3 separate regions of the Homo sapiens genome follow, and all the other regions are reported to be linked to region 1. Evidence: microRNA targets listed by miRTarBase, many of them from high-throughput screens and not tested one by one. Region 1 holds a microRNA gene; each other region holds the end of a gene's coding sequence.

Evidence for each region. The annotated mature microRNA hsa-miR-489-3p reads GUGACAUCACAUAUACGGCAGC and lies in region 1 at 3,817-3,838, opposite strand. An mRNA with a match to its seed (bases 2 to 7 or 8) in the 3' UTR can be bound and repressed. Matches are read on the target gene's strand: a 7mer-m8 pairs with bases 2 to 8, a 7mer-A1 pairs with bases 2 to 7 and ends in A, and an 8mer does both.
Region 2: the mRNA of DRC9 is a reported target of hsa-miR-489-3p. The part of its 3' UTR that is shown has no 7-base or 8-base seed match.
Region 3: the mRNA of PTPN11 is a reported target of hsa-miR-489-3p. Seed matches in the 3' UTR shown: 7mer-m8 at 1,995-2,001 and 7mer-m8 at 1,545-1,551.

The regions. Positions count from the first base shown.
Region 1 is chr7:93,480,131-93,488,337 of GRCh38, forward strand. MIR489 (microRNA 489) reads right to left here and starts at 3,889; the gene lies at 3,806-3,889. It overlaps CALCR (calcitonin receptor), which reads right to left. Exons shown (of 14, transcript NM_001742.4): 3 at 6,801-6,877. The coding sequence starts at 6,851. It overlaps MIR653 (microRNA 653), which reads right to left and starts at 2,725; the gene lies at 2,630-2,725.
Region 2 is chr3:197,883,650-197,891,856 of GRCh38, reverse strand. DRC9 (dynein regulatory complex subunit 9) reads left to right here. Exons shown (of 12, transcript NM_032263.5): 11 at 310-411; 12 at 2,143-2,780. The coding sequence ends at 2,277. It overlaps LRCH3 (leucine rich repeats and calponin homology domain containing 3), which reads right to left. Exons shown (of 21, transcript NM_001365715.1): 21 at 3,421-8,207. The coding sequence ends at 8,191. Among named protein-coding and RNA genes, the nearest start is that of RPL35A, 62 kb to the left of the region's middle.
Region 3 is chr12:112,502,938-112,511,144 of GRCh38, reverse strand. PTPN11 (protein tyrosine phosphatase non-receptor type 11) reads right to left here. Exons shown (of 16, transcript NM_002834.5): 15 at 6,349-6,450; 16 at 1,227-5,320. The coding sequence ends at 6,381. Among named protein-coding and RNA genes, the nearest start is that of PTPN11, 88 kb to the right of the region's middle.

The sequences.
Region 1 (8,207 bases):
TAGATATTTATCTCAGCACATTTGCATTTTGGTACAGATTGACAATAGTTTTTTTCAGTTTCAGTTAATCATCACCATCACAAGCCTCTCTTTTTCAAAGGTAATGTGGGTGTTTGAAAAGATCACTCTGTCACACTGTTCTTCCTAACTTGTGTTTATAAAGATTTCAATTTCTTTTGTGGCTATGACCAATGTTTTTAGTGGTGTTGGAATCTGCGAATTTTTAATATCCATGTTCTGCATAGAGATTTTTTTTTCTTTTTTTGAGGAGACCTAAAAACATCAGCCTGCACTGACTTTCCTTTTTCTAAATTTAGGAATGCTGCTTAATTTCTATCATACCCGTTGAAATTTCAATTCTAAGATTGAAGTTTCTCCAATTGTATTGATGGCAGAAGTGGTGTTATGTACTCTTCTATATGTGCTAGTTTCTAAACAAAACTCATCCCTATTAAGTTGACATGTATATTCCTGGCTCTTCATGGTGAATCCTCACTGTTTTCCATGTGTGTCATTGTATATGTCCTACACGACAGCACATCACTAACTGCTAAGCTGTCCAGCACAGAATCCAATCAAAATTCAGAGTTTGGAGAGAGTAGGGAGCAAAAATATTCAGGATGGCTACAGATACAAGGTAGAATTTGAATTGTATCTTGAGTGTGGGAAGTTTCTGCATAGGCACAAGGGGGGGTCGAGAAGCCTTTTGGGATGGAGGGACCTTTCCCACAAAAGTCTGGAGGTTGGAAATGACATGCATGAGCCACTGTGAGAAAACCATCTTGCCTGAAGGGGAGCATATTTGAGGGTAAGAAGGTCAGGACTTTGCTTTCAAGACTGCATTATCTGAATCTTCAGATAACAAAAAAAGAGTTAAAACTTGTTTTGTCACTTTGAGCAGGTTAGCAACCTCTCACTAGATCTGTTTCCTCAACCTAGGAAACGTAAAATAAGAAGAGCGGTAAGAATAATATTTATCATCTGTCATGTTGTGAGGATGAACAAGACAATAAACACCAAGTGTCAGGGACATGAAAGGTTCAAAACATTTTAGCTAATATTGTTAAAACATGGTATATAACATAATATATATGATAAAGATGTTTTGTAGATTTTTGATCAGTGAAGGTTGTGAAAGGAGAATTTTTAGTAAAATTCATGCAGCAGGCATCAGATGTCCACAGGTTAAAGTTGCGGGGTGGGGTGGGGGCAGCCAGGAAGTTGAAGGCCTGGCTGGACTAGATCAGTCCATGTTGGAACAAGAAAGTACCACTCTTAGCACCTTCTCAATAATAAAAACATGAAGGCATATTTGAATACAAGGAATGGGAAACAGTAATAGTCAAATAGCCCAGATAATTAGCCTAGATATTTGGGGAAAAAAATAGTTCCCAAGAAAGGGAAGATGCTGGGAAAGGAAAACCTTATTAGGGGGAACTTCTCCCCCTTGGTAAGTAAGTCCTATTTTGGGTTAGATTTGGAGATGGTAGCAAGCCATCCTAGTGGAAATATCTTGCAAAGAGAAGAGGGTGAATACTTATCATTATTATAACATTACTGTGATAACTTCAAATGGACACCAATTGTGAATAAGGTTGACACTACTCTTTAAACATTTTGTTGATTTCTAATTTTAATGTCTCTTGAATTTATGTCAGAAGAGAAAGTAATGAACCCATAAAAATGATTATAACTGTGCAAATCCTTTACCAGTGTAGCTGAACACAATTCTTTTGATATATGACACTTTCCCCACTGGTCTTCAGATCAGTCAGCAAATATTGATCAAACTTGATGAGCCCAACATTGTGCCAGATGCTGAGGATACAGTGCTGAATAAAATAAGTGTAGACTGTGCTCTCATAGAGCTTACAGTCTGGCAAGATGGACCAACACTATAAAATATATTTCTGATACTTGAAATTATGAACAATAAAGAATCATCAGTCATAAAATTCTTAGATATTCCTAATGGAATTGGAACACGATTTGCAAAATTTTTAAAAAAGAGTAATTTGAAGGGATTCCATGTTGAGGTTTCTTTTTTTAGTTTATTACTCAACTTTTGTATGAATATGTGTGTTTTAAAAATTCAATTACATATTAGGCAACCATCAAAACAAGAATGGATCATGATGCCTTCACAATAGAGATATTAATTATTGGTTCAACTTATACATTTATTTTAGATTCTTCTTTTGTGGCTCTAAAATCTTCAGTTAATATGAGAATGATCATTTGATGTATTATTAATTTCTGGACCATTTTCTCACCATCTTCAAATCGAATTAGAAGATGGAACATGATGTCATATATAAATCTTATCTGTCACTTGTATTAGATATGCTAAACACTGGGAAGTATTTTGTTTAAATCTGGCTTTCTTCCCAAAAGTAACATTCTGAATTCTCTTTTTATATGGCTGACAACCAACCAAGAGATTTTCTTGCTCTAGTTGGAAATTCATGGAAACCATAGGCAAATAGTATGTCCGAGGATAACAAGTAGAAAACCCTATGCTTGTATTTTCAATTATATTTTTATTTGCTTTAATGCAGTTTTAACATCAGTAACAGTGGAAATACGACAATCTGTATACGAGTAGTTATAATTCATGCTGATGAAAGTAGCTTCCATCTTATCATTCTTGCAATATTGAAACAAACTCCAGTGAACTTGTTTGAAGCTGGTTCAGTAGAGATTGTTTCAACACTGAAGGAATGAAAAATTAGAACCTCTGTTGTCAGATGAGCAGTAATAATCTGCATCAGTTCCTGGTCTGGTTCATATTTGAGCACTGAAGATGGAATTTTCCCAACAGTAGATGAATGTCTCAGTGGCCTTCTTCCTAAAATAACATACCCATTGGGGCATTACGTTTATACATACAGTCATCCCTTGGTATACTCAGGGGATTGGTTGCAGGACCTCCTGTGGATACCAAAATCTGAGGATGCTTAGGTACTTCATATAAAATGGTGTAGTATTTGCATATGTGGATACCAAAATCTGAGGATGCTTAGGTCCTTCATATAAAATGGTGTAGTATTTGCATATAACCTATGTACATCCTCCTGTATTATTTAAATCATCCCCAGATTATTTATACCTAGTACAATGTAAATATGATGTAAATAGTTGTTATACTGTATTATTTAGGAAATAATAAAAAGAAAAATAGTCTGTATGTTTACAATACAATTTTTTCCTGAATATTTTCTATCCAAGATTGGTTCAATCTATGGATGTACAACCCATGGATACAGAGGGCTGACTGTATAGATAGATAGATAGATAGATAGATAGATAGATAGATAGATAGATAGACAGACAGATAGATAGATATAAACATATAAATATATGTATATGTATGATTTTATGTATATTATATATATATAATTACAATCATGGAATTACTACTGCTTAAAAATAACACATATACAAATTTCATAAAGTTTATTAAATGTTAAACTTTTGCTGATAATTTTATACAAATAAGAATTGCTGGGAAGGTGGTATCATTTTCAGCAATACAGAGACAAAATAAAACCAGTAGTGATTGGATGAAACTACCAAACAATGTAAGAGACTTCAAATATCCTACTTATTATAAGTGTTATGTCTATACTACTTATTTCAGGGGGTTAAATAAAAATATGATTATATGTTCACATTCAGATAGAAATGAGATATTAAGGGCATATTGTTTTTCTGAATAAACATCAGTTTTCAAAGCTTTGCATATAAACCATCTTACATGATTTTTCAACATACAAACAAACAAAACTCTTAATTGTTGTCCCATGTAGCAGTTTAGCTGCCGTATATGTGATGTCACTCCTAAAGGTTCAAGTAAATGGCGTCACACATACGACCACCAAGCTGCCACCAACAGCAGTAGTCAGCAGCCCAAACATCATCAGTTTTTTTCAGTCGACAAATACTTTGAGTGCCTCTCACATGTCAGGCACTCTTCTAGGTTCTGGAAATTCAGCAGTGAACCAAACTGGCAAGCCACCTGCTCTCATAGAGCTTACATTCTTGATTTTATCCACACTAATCATGGAATCCACAGGAAAGGAATCTGATTTGAAATGGTCATATGCTTATGCAATTCCTACTGTGATGTAGGACAGTCAGTTTGCTTTTGGGTTACAGGCAGTTTCTAGAAGTACAGAGACAGTTACAGAGCTGTTCTTCATGGAACTTTGAGAAATGGTCCATCTCTGCAATAGTTCAAGCCCACTGAGTGTATGGACCCAAGCTGCTGTGCTGAAGGGAGAGCTTCCTATTGATTGCCACATGCAAAACTACTCTAAAAAGTATGTAAACCTAGAATCCACAAACTGATGCAACCAATGAGATTTTCATGTCACCATCCTTAATGTTGATAATGTATATAATTATTTTTGCTTTTCAGTTACTTACACATTTCAAAATAAGAAAGGACAAAGCACACTGTTGTAAAAAGTGTTAGCCCTGGTTTTCCCAGGTAAGATCAGATGCCTGGCTGGTGTACTGTGTAATTCTACTTACATTATATAAACAACGAAACTGCATATATCATAAATTCAAAGCAAATAGGTGAACATAGATAAGTAAACAAGTAACAATAACACCTGCTCTGAAGAACCTAATTTTTATGTCTTTGTTATTACCATTGGCTTTGTTGTCATCAGCATCGTCACTGGCATCTTTTTCTGAGAGCTCACTGTATACCAACTGCTGCTCTAAGCTTACTGTATACCTCGCAGGAGGGAGAGGAATTGAGTGGGTGGTTATGGTTAATGGAAAGAGGCTAATTGAAGGTGGTGACCCAAACTGAGACTTTAAAACCTATATGGAAATCGAGTTGATAGAGTTCAATAGTTAGTGTATTTTCACAACAATCTATTGTCTAAAAAGTAATATTTCGGATTAATTAGGAACATTGTCATTAAAATTTTTTTTCTCTGAGAAGTGTCAGTGTGAACATAATAAACGTTTTGAAGAAAATGGACATATCAAATTTTGTTTTATGGACAAATCCTCCAAATCAAATATATAATCCAAATACAGAGAGAGAAGCAAATTTCTCTCTGTCACAGCAAAGAGAGCACAAACCCATTTAAGTGCCCTGTTCAGTTATGCTTGCTGGTCAAGAGGTGCCCACAAGCCATAAAATGTTTCTGTCCATGGCTCATGCAAAGATGTGCATTTTTTTCAATATTTAAATTATAGACTACATTAGTAAAAGTTTTGAATAAAAATGACCTACGTTGCTTTTTGAACACACTACAAATTTTCTAAAGCCTTTGTAATAAAAAAGGTAATTAGATAATCTTCAAACAATTTTGTTAGTATTTAGTTCTTTCTTTAGTTTTTCTTCTGTCATGTTCAATATAATTATTTATGAAGCATGATTATTCAAAAATATTCACATATACCAGATCACTTAGGATTTCATTTGAGCTATGAAAAATAACAATATCAATAATATATAGCAATATTTTTACATCCATAGAAGACCACATAAGGCCTGGGTATTTACTGGCAAATTAAAATATTCTATTAGTTTCCATAGTAGTCTTGTTTAGTGTTTTTATTATATTTCCAGTGACATAAAGAAACCTGCATTTCCAAATACTAATTACTTTTAGAAAATTTTACTGTAATTTATCTAAAGAAATATTTAATAGGATAAAATGATAAGACAAACTGACAATAAAATAAGTTATACTCATTATCCAAATAGGTGCAAAAGGGTTGCATTAATAGTCATTCCCATACACCATTTATTTGATGTACAATATTACAAAATAAAAATTGCCTTACAAATTAAATTAACATTTATGAAATACTAGCAATATTTTTTTCTTGAATAATATAAAGACAAACAGTTTAGACAGACTTGTAGGCCTATAACTACACATTAATAAACAATGGAAATCCTCGAACCCTATGCAAGCTTTGTGTGGGTCAGTATGACAGTATGAGATATTGAGTGATCTTTGCTGCCAACTGTAATTTATTAGCAAATGTTACTCTGATGTGACAGAAAGGATAAGAAGCAAGGCAGCTCCACATTGATTTACGTAAAATTTACTCATCTCCCATTCATGTGCTATTGAAGCTGATGTGATGGTAGGTTAACAATGTTGACACAAATAATAGGCATTGATAGTGTTCTCTAAGATGATTATATTTCCGATTACTTGCTAAATCTTTTAGGAATAAAACAATATAGAATTACACAAACTGAACATAATTTAAAAGATTGGAGAAAGAGTTATAGAATAATAGTGGTATATAAAGACTTGAAGTTTCCATAGTCAGTTTTTGATGAAAAATACATTTGAAATCAATAGCCAGACTGAAAGAGTTCAGAAGTTTTAAAAGAATTGAACAGCCCAGATGTTTTAAAAGGATTGAACAGCCCAGAAACTATCATTCAAATCATAGTTTTGAACTAAGATTCAAAACATAGTTTTTTCAACATGAAAACATTTTACCTGAGAATATTATTTACCAACTATGTTAATTTCTAAGATAATATGGAGATGTCTAAAATTAATGCTAAAGTTTTGTAAACAAAACTCAAATTTCTGGGTAGACCACAAACACTAATTTAAATTAGAGACAGTTCAGAGGAGAGATTTGTTAACAAAATATTAAGCAAAATAATGGCTTTGAGGAACTTAGTTTCGGCTTCTGGAGACCAATGCCTACCCTTGCAAATACTAATTAAATCACACTCAAAACATTCCTCCTTATTCAGCATTCTTCATTAGCATGGCTTTGAATACTTTTGTTTTACTTACATTTAGAAGAAGAAACAGTGCCAAGCACCGGCTTGTAAATGTGAACCTCATTTTTGATTTTTGAAGATCTCTTTGTCCTAGAAAAATATAAAAGCAACAAAGACTAAAATTAATATATCTCTAATATTGGCTATGGCATTTCATTTTCATTTTTTCTATTTGACTTAAAGAGGATCAACATCCCAAGACACCCTAAAAAACACACGTAAGAAAAAACAGTATGCTTGTGATGCAAATGCAGTGAAGATTCCATTGCTTTTCCTGTCAACTAGATTGTTATACCTGAGGCCCTCCTATTAAGAAATTCTGGCACTACCTTTGCATATTAGGACAGAAATAAAGACATTCCAAGAGAGCAAGAGCAACCCATGTCAGCTTCAGTTAACATGTGTCATTGATAGAGCTGCTGAAAATTGCAATGAAGATGTCCACCAAGAAGTCACCTCACTGGACATGAACAAATAAAATCTGTAATTTGTGAAAGATTAATCATCATGCCCTCTAGGTAGTCTAAGGCCAACTCTAAAAGTAGCCTTATTTAAAGCTTTGAGTAATTTTCTTTCCTATAAATGTTTCTTTAAGCTTCAAGTTGCTAGTAAGAACAAATTTCTTCCATAGCAATGATTGAGCATGTCATTTAACAGCTCACCATTCATACTGAAGAGCATAATCATCCAAACAGGCTGCTTAGTCACAAATATCAAATGGTTTTTCATGGCTCTGCAGATAATTTTACACAAGAAAACTTAACAAAGGGTTAAACAGTTGAAAAATACATATATTTCTTTTCATCAGTGGGAGTTGTGTGAAACCTACATTCCAACTAGGGGTGAGTGGTTATGACTGTATCTTAACTGGTAAGTTCCTGTTGCACTATATCTACTGTATTACCCATAGAATTTACCTATCCTTTATCCAGGAGAACTTCCCCAACATAGCAAGACTGGCCAACATGCAAATTCAGGAAATACAGAGAACACCACTAAGATATTTCATGAGAAGATCAACCCCAAGACACATAATCATCAGATTCTCCAAGGTTGAAATGAATGAAAAAATATTAAGGGCAGCCAGAGAGAAAGGCAAAGTAACCTACAAAGCAAAGCCCTTCAGACTAACAGAAGACCTCTCAACAGAAACTCTACAAGCTAGAAGAGATTGGAGGCCAATATTCAACATTCTTAAAGAAAAGAATTTTCAACCCAGAATTTAATATTCAGCCAAACTAAGCTTCATAAGCGAAGAAGAAATAAAATCATTTCTGGGCAAGCAAATGCTGAGAGATTTTGTTACCATTTGGTCTGCCTTGCAAGAGCTCCTGAAAGAAGCACTAAATATGGAAAGGAAAAACCAGTACCAGCCACTGCAAAAACACACCAAAATATAAAACCAATGGCACTATGTAGA
Region 2 (8,207 bases), not on the chromosome of region 1:
CATTCTCCCAAAGTTTAAAAAACAATCCATATTATTTTGAGATCATTGATCACACATTAATTCATATTTCATTTTTTATAAAAGATAGAATTTAAATTTGAATTATTAAAACTGAAAAAGTTTTGGGAACAATTATAAAGTTAATATGTGAATATTTACCATCTAGGAATCTATTACATTTTTTTCTTTGGTTTATCTTTAGATTGAGCATGTTTTATTTTGAAATTTTATATTAAAAGTGCAGGGCTGGCTGGGCTACAGCTTAGCCAAGAGAGTACTATAATAAATGATGAATGTCTATCTTTGCAGATAAGAGAGTATGAACAGGTCATCATTGAAGATCGTATAGAAAAGGAGAGGAGCAAGAAGAAGGTAAAACAGGATCTCTTGGAATTAAAGAGCGTTATAAAGGTAAAGAACCATAATCAGTATCTCGCCACAGCTGGCTTAACACTGAGGAACACAAAAGCATTTCCAATTCATTATCAAACACATCTCAGTATATCAAGGAACTGCAGATCTGAGAAGAAGCATGGACTTTTGTTATTATTAGAATTTGCCAACAGTCCATGGTGCAGGGAGACAGTTAACATAGAAAAGGACGTGCCCCCAGCTCTTCATCTGGGGAAAAAGAGGTGGTTAGCAGCGGAAGCAAAACCTAGGCCAAGAGACGAAATATCAGATTACTATGTCTAACCAAAACCAGCTCTTGACAGAATGATTCTTTTTAATATCCTTCTACTTCTTAAAATCCTGCTTATACATCAGCCCAGACTATCTGCTGGGTTCTGATACAAGCTGCTTAGGTGGGAAGGATAAGCAGCAAGTTAGAAAAAAATAGAGATATTTTAGTTTTATGTGAACTTGTGTGTCTCAGTGATGATGAAACTGGCAGGTCACAGATCACGTGAAATACTCGCAAGCAAAAACTGAAAGCTGGACGGCACCTGTCTGGAGCTGGCCCTTCTCTCTGAAGGTCGAGGCCCTAGTGGGTACACTGTAGTTTGGGTTGTATATTAGGGTGATCTAAAATAGTTAAGTTTTATACCACATTCTGGACCAGGTATCCAGACCCAAAGTTGGGCTTCCCATAAGGAGTCAGATGTGTAAGTAGCAAGTATTTATCAAGTTTCAATGGTGTTTCCCCATAAAACTTGTCAGTATTCCTGAATTTACAACAAACATGTTAAGAACGAGCTGAAGAGCACGTTTGCTTTCTTTTCACTAGTGGATTTGCTTCCAGTCTTTAGGGTTTAGTCTGACTTTAAAGCAGTAGAGACCGTATTGAGAACAACTGTTATCTAAAACCAAGATATTCAAGAAAGCTAACTAAATCTTTTTTAAAAGTACTAGGACAACTGATCTTTTAAGCAATCACTAAAGATATGAAATGCACAAGCAAGCCTATGAAAGTCATCTAGACTTATCTGTGCTTTTCTTTTTTTTTTTTTTGAGACAGCATCTCACTTTGTCACTCAGGCTGGAGTGCAGTGGCGCAATCTCTGCTCACTGCAACCTCTGCTTCCCGGGCTCAAGAGATCCTCCTGCCTCAGCCTCCCAAACAGCTGGGACTATAGGCACAAGCCACCAGGCCTGACTAATTTTTTTTCTTTTTTGTATTTTTGTAGAGACAGGGTCTTGCCATGTTGCCCAGGCTGGTCTCAAACCCTTGAGCTCAAAGTGATCTGCCCACCTCAGCCTCCCAAAGTGCTGGGACTACAGGCATGAGCCACCGCACCTGGCATTATCTGTGCATTTTTGGCCGAGTGCTTTTGCCCTTGGCCCAGGTAACTAACATTCTTTTTGGTTCAAATAGCTGTTAAGTATGGGGAACCTGGACTTTCCTCAAGGAAAGCAGTATAAGGAAGTCAGATTTCTACGGGTGAAGAAAAAATAGGTCAAATCAGATTCCTTTTCTTTATTTTTACTTGAGAACTTCACTCTTGAGTCCATGGCTTAAGCTCCGGGTCCTGCACGACAGGAGAGCATCGCTGAAGTGATTACGTGCCTGGCTACTTCCATGTCCTGGAGAGAGACTGTTTGTCAGACAGAAGTTACTTTATTCAACAGTCCCTTTATGTGGAAAGAATGCAGCTTGTCAGGCATAGCATACGTCGTACTCACTCCCCTTTTCTCTTCCAGCTCCAGGCCTGGTGGCGAGGCACTATGATACGGAGAGAAATTGGTGGTTTCAAGATGCCTAAAGACAAAGTTGATAGCAAGGATTCAAAAGGCAAAGGTAAAGGCAAGGATAAGAGGAGAGGCAAGAAGAAGTGACCAAGTTCTCTTTTGTGTTTTCTGCTGGTATTCTGGAGGTGGGAAGGACTTGGAGAGAGTTAAGAAACACCTGGTACCTCAAAGATGACTCATCTACAGGTTGTTTCCTATTGAGACTTTCCCAGGGAAGCCTGATTTCACTTTGCCTGTTAATTTCACTCTGCCTGTTAGGTGGGTTTTCAAACCCTGATTTAGGATTACACCATTGACTTAGGGCTTCCTCATACCTTGCTGGGAAGAAGTTTCTAGTAGTCCTGTGAAGATTCATTCTTCTTGCTCTTTCTCAGCAGAACAAAGGAGTTCACTGGCTTAGCTACAGTGACGCATTGAAACTTGAGTAATTCCTGTAATGTCAGATTTTGATTTTACCCAATTTGTCTGTAGTGAAAAAACTCTTATGAGCAAAAGTATTCAGTAGGAATTACAATATGATGTTATTAGCTGTCCAGCATAATATATACACAGCAAAGTTTTAATAAATGTTGGTTCCTGCCTGCCTTTTAGATTTATCGTCACTTTGGTGTTTTTATTCAGGTGAAAATGGCATGGAATACATATCCAGTTGTAAGCTGCTTCAGCAACTTTTCTAGGAAACAGGGATACAAATTATAAATACAAGCTAGAAATAGGATGTTAGGATATACAACTTTACAAACTATAAAGATGGGGACACAGGTTCTCTGGAAGGCTAGTTTGGAGATATTTTTGACAAGTGAAACACTAGAGCCACCAATCCCCACTTTATGGAGTGTTAAGATGAAAAGAAATCAGGTGTGTGAAAATATCTAACTTGTGCCTGGCAAATAGGAAAGCTGTCACTCTCCCTCTTCTCCTAGAAAAAAAATGCACCCACCAGATCATGCTTGCCTTGATGAGTCAAAACAATGCCTTGGGATGCTAAAGGTTTCCAAGAGCAAAGTTGTCCTAATGTGTCACATACATTTCATGAATTAAGCCTTCTATCTAACTCCAAATAAAGCTCAGTCTTGATATCTGTACTTCCTTAAAAAATGAATTTGATCTCAAAAGTTTGTCCCGAAGCCCCCATTTCCACTGACATTCCCTCTGGAAATGAGATGCTCTTTCCTTGATTCACCTTTGCCAAGGGAACCACACCTCAGGTATGAACACGCTCCAATCAGCTTTTATTACACGCCACTGAAGTGTTGGCTTTTATTTGAATGTCAATGTGTAAAGTGGCGTACAGGCAATTTAAAATAACATACATGATACTGACATATTTATACTTAGAACTTATGCAATATATTTACAGACAAAAATACAGGACAATGTTTTACAAAATCTTTCACTAATTACATGTTTACAACATTTTCAGAAATAAAACGAAATTTGCTGTAAACCATCTCAACTGCACTGTGTATATAGAAAGGCTTCTAAATATCCATGTTTTCATTTCTATAACCATTTAAGCGCTTAGTTTTTACGAATTCATCAAACTCATTCGCATAGTCACACATCATTAGTCACTGCTGAGCTGTAGAAAGTAAGAGAAATCGCAAACTCCTTGATTAGCTGTATTTTAAAAAGCTCTTCAGAAAAGTGATCTACTACTATGCTCTGTGTTCTAGCAGAATACAAAGGCCCCTCTTTCCATGGGTCGTTTCCAGACCTGGCTATTACAAGAGAACACTGGAGTGCTAAACACAGATTATGAGTCTGAAATACTGGGAAACTGCTGACAGAAAATCTCTGTACGTGGCAAGGGCTCTGCTGGGGGTGGCTCTCAACCCGACACTGTCAGTGATGGGAAGGGCTCTGCTAGGGGGGGCTCTCAGCCCCAGACACTGTCAGTGATGGGAAGGGCTCTGCTGGGGGGCTCTCAGCCCCAGACACTGTCAGTGATGGGAAGGGCTCTGCTGGGGGGCTCTCAGCCCCCAACACTGTCAGTGATGGGAAGGGCTCTGCTAGGGGGGGCTCTCAGCCCCAGACACTGTCAGTGATGGGAAGGGCTCTGCTAGGGGGGCTCTCAGCCCCCAACACTGTCAGTGATGGGAAGGGCTCTGCTGGGGGGCTCTCAGCCGCCAACACTGTTCAGTGATGGGAAGGGCTCTGCTGGGGGGCTCTCAGCCCCCAACACTGTCAGTGATGGGAAGGGCTCTGCTGGGGGGCTCTCAGCCGCCAACACTGTTCAGTGATGGGAAGGGCTCTGCTGGGGGAGCTCTCAGCTGCCGACACACTGTCAGTGATGGGAAGGGCTCTGCTGGGGGGCTCTCAACCCCCAACACTGTCAGTGATGGGAAGGGCTCTGCTTCAGGTCAGGGGAGCTGTGACAAGGTCATCTTCATCTTACACTGGAGTCAAGCAAAGCTAAATGTTAAACCGAATTGTGCTTTCCAATTTAAAAAAAAAAAGGTACATACAAAATACTGAATACAAAAATTCTCCCAACAAAAGCATCATGATTTGTTTTTGCATCTTGACATAAAAAAGAAATTCATACCTTCCTACCTCTGCAGAGGGTTTGAAAAAAGAGAAAAAAAATTCAAAGCATTTGATATTTTTCCTTCAATTATCAGCCAAAACTGCACATGGTTTTTCCTAACAATTCAAATACAAATCTGATTTAGTTTGATAAAAATACATTAATAAGGTTTCATAATATGTGCAAAATTTGAAATAAGTTGAAATTTCCATTTATCCCTATGGGAAAATTAGTTGCAAATGTTGCAAGTATTGCATTATGTAATGTCTTCTAGAATTATTCCTTGCATAGTATATTTTTGGTTTGGTGGGTTTTTTTTTTTTTTTTTTTTTGAGACAGAGTCTCGCTCTGTTGCCCAGGCTGGAGTGCAGTGGCACAATCTCAGCCCACTGCAACCTTCGGCTTCCAGGTTGAAGCGATTCTTGTGCCTCAGCCACCCAAGTAGCTGGGATTACAGGTGCCCACCACCACGCCCAGCTAATTTTTGTATTTTTAGTAGAGACAAGGTTTCACCATGTTGGCCAGGCTGGCTTGCGTATGTTAAAAACAATCCTGTCCTTTGCTGAATTTCATTTCTGGTGGCATATAATTTGGAGACTGTACTGAGGCTTAATGTTGACAAACACAGTTTAAAAATGCACATGGCTAAATTCTAAACAAGTTATATAAGGGTATATAAGAGTTGGTGGGTCTGTTGGGAACTGTAAATATAATGGGGTCTTACATAAAGACATTTTACTTTTGTTCTATAAGATTGGGCATTGAAGTTAGATGTTGTACAATTTATTTTTAGAGATGGGGTCTCACTCTGTTGCCCAGGCTGGAGTGCAGTGGTGCAGCCATGGCTCACTGTAGCCTCAACCTCCCAGGCTCAAGTGATCCTCCCACCCCAGCCTCCTGAGTAGCTGGGAGTACAGGCAGGTGCCACCACACCTGGTTTTTTTTTTTTTTTTTTAATTTTTGGGAGACAGGGTCTTGCTATGTTGCCCAGGCTGCTCTCAAACTCCTGGGCTCAAGTGATCCTCTTGCCTCGGCCTCCCAAAGTGCTGGGATTATAGGCATGAGCCACCATGCCCAGCCTGTTATACAATTTTAAACCTGGTCAAGTGGTAATGTTCTGATGAATTTGTTTCTCTGCAAGAACAAGGAAGAAAACATTACTTTGACCAGGTATTCAACATGATTTGATCCAAAGCTACTTTTAGATGCTACATTTACCTGATAAAAAGAGGGATAACATTATGCCCAAATGGATGCATTGTAAAGAAAATCCAGAACAGTTAACAACTACAGAAACAAAAGAGATATCTTCCGCTTACTTTATTTACTTGTTTTACAAAGGCAGTGAACACCAAAGGATATCACCAACAACTAAAAGGAGTTCAAAATGCAGGGGAAGGAAAACTAGCTGAAACTTGAGTAAAGGCTCCTGTGCGGTGTGAGCCCTTGGGCCCTTTTCCTCCACCCATCATTGAGTATATAAAGGCGCTTGTGGTGGAGCGAGATGGGGCGCGTTTTCTTTTTTTGAGATGGAATTTCGCTTTTGTTGCCCAGGCTGGGGTGCAATGGCACGATCTTGGCTCACCACAACCTCCGCCTCCTGGGTTCAAGCAATTCTCCTGCCTCAGCCTCCCGAGTAGCTGGGATTACAGGCATGCACCACCACGCCCAGCTAATTTTGTATTTTTAGTAGAGACGGGGTTTCTCCATGTTGGTCAGGCTGGTCTCAAACTCCCAACTTCAGGTGATCTGCCCGCCTCAGCCTCCCAAAGTGCTGAGATTACAGGTGTGAGCCACCACACCCAGCTAGGAAGATGCTGTAAGTGCTTAAATTCAGCCACAGAAACTGGCAGTTACCTGAAAGAAATACAAGAAACTAGGCTTTTCCGAGCTAGAAGTGTATGTGCTGTAACTGCAATGTGTCTGCAGGCCCAGATGTCTGAGGAGCAGCAGGAGGGCGGGGAGGGAGGCTCAGTGAGACCAAGTGCGCTATCAGCTTCAGAATTTGGAAACTCTGTATAGAGAGAGGGCTTGTTGTTGATAATGTCTAGATAACGGGGTTTGGAACCTGTGTATAGAGGGCTTGTTGTTTATTATAATGTCCAGATAACAGGATGACATAGAACTATCTTCTATGATGGTATGACTGCAGTTGAAGGGAGGCCTAGAATACTGACCTTAAATACAACTCTATCTGTTTCACTGTTTTACTATGCAAAATCTGGGCCAGGCCCGATGGCTCACTCCAGTAATCCCAGCACTTTGGGAGGCTGAGGCGGGAGGATCAGTTGAGCCCAGGAGTTTCAGACCAGCCTGGGCAATACGGCAAGACCCCAACTCTTAAAAAAAAGAAGACTATGCAAAACCTAGGCCTTCTATATTATTTTTGTTTTGCCTTTGACAGAACAGTCCAACTCCTCATAATATAGCTTTTGATTTTAAATGTGGGTGAAAAATGCAGGGGGCCATTACCCTCCCCCGCAAACATACAAATATCTAGCTTTGAACAGTGGTTCCACTACATGAAAAACACGTGCAATGGGCCGGGCGCCGGGCGCAGTGGCTCACGCCTGTAATCCCAGCACCCTCAGAGGCCGGGCACAGTGGCTCACGCCTGTAATCCCAGCACTCTCGGAGGCCGGGCGCGGGGGCTCACGCCTGTCATCCCAGCACTCTGGGAGGCCGGGCACAGTGGCTCACGCCTGTAATCCCAGCATTTTGGGAGGCCGAGGCAGGTGGATCACTTGAAGTCAGGAGTTTGAGACCAGCCTGGCCAACATGACAAAATCCCATCTCTACTAAAAATACAAGAAAATTAGCCAGGCATGGTGGCGGGCACCTGTTGTCCCAGCTACTCGGGAGGCTGAGGCAGGAGAATCGCTTGAGCCCGGGAGGCGGAGGTTGCAGTGAGCTGAGATTATGCCACTGCACTCTAGCCTGGGCGACTGAGCAGAACTCCTTCTCCAACAAAAACAAAAACATGTGCAATGGTTGTTGAAAATGCAGATTCCTAGGCCTTACCCCAGCTCTACTGAATGTGAATCTGTATTTTAACAAATACTCCAGGAGAGTCTAATGAACAACCAAGTTTAGAAACCAGCAGACCAGTTGTCTTGAGACCAGGTAAAAACAATGGCACAGCATGCTTGTGCCTAACACAGAAGATGTGCTTTCTGGCACGTGAAACACGCCTGCTCTCCAGGAAAACACAGCCAAGTTAGGTGCTGGGTTTTCAGTAAGAGAAGTTTCATCTGAGAAAACCAATGGTGTCTTCGTAAAAAAATTCAATGGAAATGGAAATAACCTCCCCTAAAATGGAGAAATGAAGCAAAATATTCCTGTTAGGAATCATGGGAACGGTCCCTTCTGAGAACACACAAGAGCTTTGTTTAAGCAGACAGCTGGCAGCAGCAATCACGGTGTCCTGTTCCTTGTTTTGGCCAGGCCAGTGCCCACCGTCCTGGGGATCCTCAAACAGCAGATAACT
Region 3 (8,207 bases), not on the chromosome of region 1:
CAGGGCACAGGTGTAGTGCCTAGTATTTTGAAGGTGCTCTGTTATTTTTATTTATTTATTCTTTTGAGAGAGAGTCTCACTCTGTCGCCTAGGCTAGAGGGCTAGAGTGCAGTGGCGCAATTTTGGCTCACTGCAACCTCCACCTCCTGGGCTCAAGCAAGTCTCATGCCTCAGCCTCCCGAGTAGCTGGGATTACAAGCATGCGCCACCATGGCCAACTAATTTTAGTATCTTTAATAGAGGCGGGGTTTCGCCATGTCGGCCAGGCTGGTATCGAACCCCTGGCCTCAAGTGATCCGCCCGTCTTGGCTTCCCAAAGTGCTGGGATTACAGGCATGAGTCACTGTGCCTGGCCCATGCTCTGTATTTCTGAATGGACAGGTGACAGGACTAACAAACTAAACCAGCTAGATTTGATTAGATGCATTAAACAATTCAAATGAGACTGAGAGGGGGGTCATAGTATTTTACAGTGTAAATAAGTAATCCAAATCATTCCTTATATTTCTAATAAAGAATAACCACCTGTTTTGCTATCTATAAAATGGTTTCTTTCTGCCCATGTCAGTGCACACTGTTGTCAGAACAAAGTGGCCCTGTTGGTATGTGACCTAAACCTACTCTAAAGGAAGAGCTGATGTCCCATAGCAGATAATTTACTCCTCCTCCAAGCCTCCTTACCATCCCTTTACTTCTTATTCCCACCTAATACTATTTACATTCAGTTCTGTGTGTTTTCTAACAATTTCCTCTGTGTGTGTGTGTGTGTGTGTGTGTGTGTATGTGTGTGTGCGCGCGCGTGCGCGCACATATATATTTTTGGGGGGCATGCAGTGAGAGTAGGTGAGAAAGGGTCTCACTATGTTACCCAGACTGGTCTAAAACTCCTGGGCTCCTGGGTTCAAGGAATCCTCCCGTCTCAGCCTCCAAGTAGCTGAGATTACAGGGGCGCGCCACCATGCCCAGCATTTCTTCTATAGTTTACACAGACTATACTTTTTACTCTTGAGTTACTCATATGTTCTCCCAGATAGAACTCCCTATCTCCTAAAGCTATTTCTACAGGAAACACTCAATGAATTCTTCAGGAACTCATGCCTTTATTCTATGTTCCAAGTCACTTCTAGATAAGAGCTGCTAAATGTCAGTATTTTGCCAGTGTGAGAGGTGGAGTGACCAATAATCCCATTTTTTTCCTGGACATTTCTGATGAAGCAAACGACAAATGCCATCATATAAGAAAATGGTTTTATTCCTAATTTTTAGTTCCCATACAGTTTACAAATACACTTTTACTCTGATAATACAGCTTTGCAACTAGCAAAGCAGTTGCGCTAACACCCATAAATATAGGTGGGGAGACAATTAACATCCACTAATGTTTCTCTACATAAACTATTCTTTTAATGTCATTTTTTTAAGAACAGTTGCAAATAGACTACATAATATACGTGGGCAAAAAGGCAATTAAGTGAATCTCTTGAAACACTAAATGTATAATAAACAGCATATTATCAACATTTACATGATTCACATCAAAATGATGACATCCTAAAACGTATTCCTTTTAAAGGATAGATTTATCAATAAAATATTACATATCTTTTAATACTCTGGTACAATACTTCATATACTGCAGGAAAATTAATTGTAGGTCTAGTCATCAGCTTAATCAGGGATCCTTTTCCCATTAGCTTTTATTAATAAAAGAATCACAATTAGGTCATAAATAAACAGGCAAATTATTAATTACATGATTTGAGGCTTAGGATGAAAACTTGTCAAAATTAGTTTGATATACAGCAAAGTTATACAACACACTAAAACCAACTGTTCAATAGTTTTTGCCTTGTGTGAACTGCCCATAGTGAAAAAGGAACAAATTTTTAGTGATGAAAGATACAATAAACTATATTTTGGAACTTTTCAAGAGGAAGAAGGAAAAAAGATTTCAACAAAATTAAGGGCAAATACAGATCCTAACAAAGGCATCCTGACATCAGGGAGGCCATGTGCTTGCTATGTGTGAAAGTTGATCCCCCAACAACATACAGAAAACAAAAGCTGCACTGGCTTTGTAGTTATGTCTATAGTCTAAGTTTCCCTTATGGATACTAAGCTACAACAAAACACTTGACAATTGCAAACCTTTCCACATCCCCCTGAATTAAAAATAACTCAAGATGTTATTAGTTCTTAAAATCCCCAATAAAATAACCTCTAAAAATAATCTTGACCATTTTCCTGGCTGTTTCCCCGAAGCAACTTGGCTCTTTAAAGAATGCACACACACCAAGAAAGTCCTACCCGTGTCTCCTCATCCCCATTTAGCCACATTTGAAAAGACCTTGGTTTCAGTGGGAGAGATGACCATAAGTTTCAGAAGGGCCACACACTGGACATGAAGCGCCTTTTAGTTTTTTTTAAAAAAAGTTATTAAGACTGTGAAATTTGGCTTTTTTTTTAAACTCCAATACCTAATGTGCCAGATAATTCTTTCACCCCAAAATATAAAATCCTATGCTTATAATTTTAAAATCCTCAGTGAGCTATGGAATATTGTGCATATTTAATACCCACCAGCAACCTAGAAGTAGATGGCATCCATGTGTCTGTCACACCGACTTTCCAAACAACCTCATTCACCCATTACTGACTGCTCTGGCCCTGGGCGCTCTGACTTCCTCAGAAACCACCTCTTTGGAACTTTCCTTTCCACAACTTTTTTTTTAAAACTTCACCTCGAGCTTTCTCCATCATCCCAGCCTCTCTGCCTGATTCCATCTCATGTAAAGTAAACTCGTCTGAGAACCTGCGATCACCTTTTACCAAGCACATGATAAGCCGTAGCAACCTAGGGACTATGATAACTCTGGCCTTGGCCTAAGTTTACATAAGAACATGATAGTTTGCTGACCTCGTGGAGGGAAATCTAAATGAAATCAATATCTTATAACAAAACTAGCCAAGATCAGGTATTTCCATTCTGAGTATAAAAGCAACTGATCTTAAGCAACAGGCAGAGATGTTAATGCAGAAGATATATTTGTACAATCAAACTCTTGTGTGCTGGTGAAAGACTTTACCCCCAAAGTCAAGTCAAGTCAAGACAAAACCAAAGCAAAATGGAGAATGAGTCGATGTAACAATGCGATAAAAAGAACAGCATTCAAGCTTCTTGCTGCAAATACTGAACTGGAATCTTTTTCTTTACAAGTTTGACTAGAAGACAGCAGTGACACTTCCCTAATAAGGGAATACCTTCAGGCCACACCTGTGTTCTGAAGCAATTCAAAGTTCAAGGAATATTGGGGGGTGGAGGTGGGGGCTGATATACATTTTGTCAGTGAGAATGGCAGCCAAACTACCCCAAAGTCTCAAGGGACTGAGAGACCTCAGAAAGGAACTACCACCAGGGCTGGATCTAGGCCTTCCTTTCAGAAGCCAAAGTCAGAAGAATCCAAGGAGGCCACAACTTCATGGCAAAGATGCCATAGCATTATTACCATCACAAAAGTCAACCAATGATATTTTCATTGAAATATCCGCACTGGATGATTCAACATATGAGGCAAAGAGGGATGTCTTTGGAGAAGGCACTTAATGTAGAACATTAGCAAATCTTACTGGTTGGCTACAACAAAAATGAGCTCATTCAACCTGGCTGGAGGCCTGTTAGGGCTGTTCCTTCTCACTGTGGCCTGACTAAAACCCAGTGGCATTAAGAAAGAGTCACGTTTCCCAAGTCTGGGGATGCCCCAGTGGGGTGGTGCTGCTCTCAAAAGCCCTGTGTCCCTAAACACATCCATCCTCACAAGATCAGTTTCCCCAAGTGCTGGTTCCAAAAATAGGCTCAGGGCTAGCAGAAATCATTCAGGAAGCTTCTTGAAGGCCCTCTCTTTATTTCTTAGTCTGACTTTCAGCTTGTCCCAGCTACTGTAAGCAGCTTCGGCTTCCCAAGGTCACTAGCAACTTCTGCTTTTGCTAATATCCTTGGTTTTCCATGGCACTGGTTGTGACCGTCTGTTAGACTAGTGGCCCCCCACTTAACTGCACCTCTACTTCACACCCTTTTCTTGAATCTGAGCTGGGCTTGTGACTTGTTTAGTAAGTAGAGGGCATACCCCAGCTTTCTTCTGATTAGAAAAAACCATCATCATCATCATCATCATCATCATCATCATCATCATCATCATCAATAGAGGGAAGTAGAAGGGACACTGTGACAATTCTGGACTTAAGTTTTCAGAAGGCCTGGCCATTTCTGCTTTTGAGCTCTTGGGAGCTCTGAGCTGCATGTGAGAGGTCTAGCTACCCTGCCAGCCAGGCCACTGAAAGAGACTACACGAAGAAGGAGAGACTCAGGACTGCAGGCAGAGAGAGAAGCCCAGCCATCCCAGTCTCTCCGCCGACCTGCTGACCACATGAGTGGCCACCTGCAGGCTGGCAGAAGAACAGCCCAGCTGAGCCCAGCTCAGATTGACTAACAGTTGGGGGCAGGTTTTTTTAAGCCACTAAAGTTTTGGGATAAGTTTGTCAGCAACATTTGGCGACCAAAAACACTGGTCATTCATAGACGCCTTTTTTCTAAGTACAAGACAATTATTCAAATGCAAAGAAAATATGGCAAACGTTTTCCCACCACAAACTTCTCAGTCAACAGCCGAACTATAATTGGTCAACGGCTGGAAAAAAGAAAAAAAAAAAAGCCACACCTCTTACCTTAATTCATAAATATCCATGATTCTTTTTCTATGACTCTTTAATGCCAGTGCAAAGGTCAACTTCTGACAGTCTCAGGCACTGGCTTAATTCTCATTTGGCCAAAAATAGAAGCCATCAAAATGAATTATCCACTACTGGATACATGATGGTAAATGAGATTGTTCTCACTTTTCTAGGTCGTTGTTACTTAATTTTCCCAAATCATTTCTTCTCATCATCCCCAACAATGAGGAAAAAAAAAATTAAACTGGTTAAGGGTATAAAAATAAAAATAAAAAAGCCTATTACTAGAATTTGAATCCCCATAATCTGCAAAATACAGCGCACAATTTAACTGCTTCCTCAATTTCAAACAAATTCTATAAAATATAATGTTGTCTACATTGTAGAGATGATTTCTTCTTATCTGAGGAAATGAGTAATTGGGAAGCAGGTATTGTTGAGTTAAAATACAGTGGTCTTTAAATGGTTTCAAATTTTGCTTATCAAAAGGTAGTCAACCACATTGCAAGCCTTCCAAATCCAAATTCTGTCTTCACATAAACTTTCTTGCGTCTGTTCTTGATCTTTTTAGGGAGAGGGTGAAAGTCCACATCTGGGGAAGAAATAAGTTAAGAGTTTTTAAGGAACATATATCTAAAAGCTTAACAAAGCATTAGGTGATTTTAAGGTAGACTTAGAGCTTTTAACTACACTACCCATTGAAGTGGAATTTCGACATGAAATACTGACACTGAGTTTTTTTTTTTTTTTTTTTTTTTTTGAGATGGAGTTTCACTCTTGTGGCCCAGGTGGAGTGCAATGGCGCGATCTTGGCACACTGCAACCGCTGCCTCTCCTGCCTCAGCCTCCTGAGTAGCTGGGATTATAGGCATGCACCACCATGCTCAGCTAATTTTCTATTTTTAGTAGAGACGGGTTGGTCTCTACTATTTTAGTTGGTCAGGCTGGTCTCGAACTCCTGACCTCAGGTGATCCGCCCACCTCAGCCTCCCAAAGTGCTGGGATTACAGGTATGAGCCACCATGCCCAGATAAGTTTCTAATTTATCATGAAAACATACATCATATACTTGGGTCACACTTAAAAAACGTAATTGATGGGGAGGCAACATATGGGAGAGATGAATTTCCAGCAGCAGAGCTGGAAGGGATGTCGGTGACCCAGTCGGCAGCCAAGTGGTCTAGCACCCCATGCCACACAGTTGGTCAGAGACTGACTGAAATGAGAACTCAGGCTTCCTGACTCCCAACCACCCAGTGCTGAGTCCCGATGCTTCCCAGATCCCTACAGATCATCCCCCAGCACAGCCTGGGCTAACCAACTCTAATAAAAATTGCAGGAACAGTGATACCTGCACTCTACCACCAGTATCAGCCATTTCTCTGGAATAAGTGCTAGCCTTGCCTCATGCAGAATTAATTCTGTGTTTGATTTTAATGTTTAATGAACTCTAAACTAAAACCATCTTGGAAAAAGAAGTACAGGGAGAGGAAAAAGGAGCCTGGTTTGTAAAACTCAATTATGGTACACTTTGCTAAAACATTCCCAAATTGCTTGCCTGCTTAAAAATACTGCCAATTATATAAACAATTAACCAATAGAGCACTTGCATTTAAATACCTATTTCTGTGCTGAAGTTTTGGCAGGTTTTCTCATCTGAAACTTTTCTGCTGTTGCATCAGGCCCACGTTTTCATAGACTCTAGCACTGTCTTCTCTCATTCTGGAGAGAAAAGAAAAAGAAAGACATTTACAAAAATGTAGACCACGCTGTTTAAGCTTACATGATATCTATAAAACACATACTACATTCTTTGGGCACCAGATATGGTACAGACACAGTTCCTGTGCCTAGGACCTGACATTCCCAGGGAGAGAAGAGATAGCCATACAGCAATATAATTACAGAGGCAGAAGTGAAATAACGCTGGGCATGGTGGCTCACGCCTGTAATCCCAGAACTTTGGGAGGCCCAGGTGGGTGGATCACGAGGTCAGGAGTTTGAGACCAGCCTGGCCAATATGGTGAACCCCGTCTCTACTAAAAATACAAAAATTATCCGGGTGTCATGGCACATGCCTGTAGTCCCAGCTGCTTGAGAGGCTGAGGCAGAAGAATCTCTTGAACTCGGGAGATGGAGGTTGCAGTGAGCAGAGATCGTGCCACTGCACTCCAGCCTGGGCGACAGAGCGAGACTCCATCTCAAAAAAACAACAGAAGTGCAATAAAAGCCTCAAGTCCTGGTGCTCCCTGGGGTCTGGCAGAAAGCAGGTTGTTTTAAGGAGGCCTGTAGGATGAGGCATTTGGATCGCACTGTGAAGAAAGGTTGGAAATGCACACATAGAATGAAATCCTATTAATTTCCAGTAGAGGGATCTGAACAGGCAAAAGCTCCAAGAAGGGAAAATACAGGAGCAGGCAGGCAGTGATGAGAGATCTATTTAGCCCCAGCTCAGGTTATGTGAAGGGCAATGGGTGGTTTAGGGCCTAGGACAGAGGGCCAAAGCATCAAGATCCCAGACTTCTTTCTGCTGAGCAGGGAGATGACATCAGAGCAGTCCAGGAGAGTAAGGAACCCAGCAGCTGTGGGTGCCAGGCTGAGAGGGGCTCCAGGACCAGTGTATCCTGGATCTGAACCCTACAAGGGAGACGACGGGAATGAAAGGCAGACAGGCTGTCTGTCACAGGCATGCCACTGGTACTGAGGGAATCATGACAGCTGACTCAGTCATGCCAACAGGAGGGACGAGCTGTCTGGCAAGGACTCAGAACCCTGGCATTCCAGTTCCATTGCAAATTATTGCAGAGAGCAATTTAAAATATCAATTTTCCCAGGCAGTCCACTGGGAAAGAAAAGAAAAAAGATAGAAAGAAGTGGCAACTTGGACGAGAAAATACCTCTGCTGTATAATTTCATTTCAATGTTAAATAGAAAGCAAATGTTAATACAAACCTCATATATGCCACCTAAAACATTTATATAGAATATTAAAATCTGCAGGGGTTTAAAAATCCATGTCGAAAGCAAACAGAGAGAAGATTCTTAGGGAAAAATAAAAGGTAAATGTTATACTAGCAAGTGACTTTCGAATATATAGAAAAATAATAACTTACAATTGCTATTCATATCCTCAATTTGACAAATGCTTTCCTACCGTGTTTTCAACAAGGAGTCGGGAAGGATTTCTGGGAAGGGCTTGAGAGTCAGTATTTTAGGCTCTATATGCCATACATGGTCTCTGTCGCATATTATTCTTCGGGCTTTGTTTTGTTATTGGGTCTTTGTTTTGTGTTCTTTTGTTTTACAACCCTTTAAAACCATTAACAGGCCATACAGTAACAGGCCATGGCCCACATCTGGCCTTGTGAGCTGTAGTTTGCTGACTCCTGGTTTAAACACCCAAAGTAGATTTCTGTTGACTGGTGGCAAATGAGCAGAACATGGCTGGGCTGACACATTAGTGGTCAATTTATTTACTT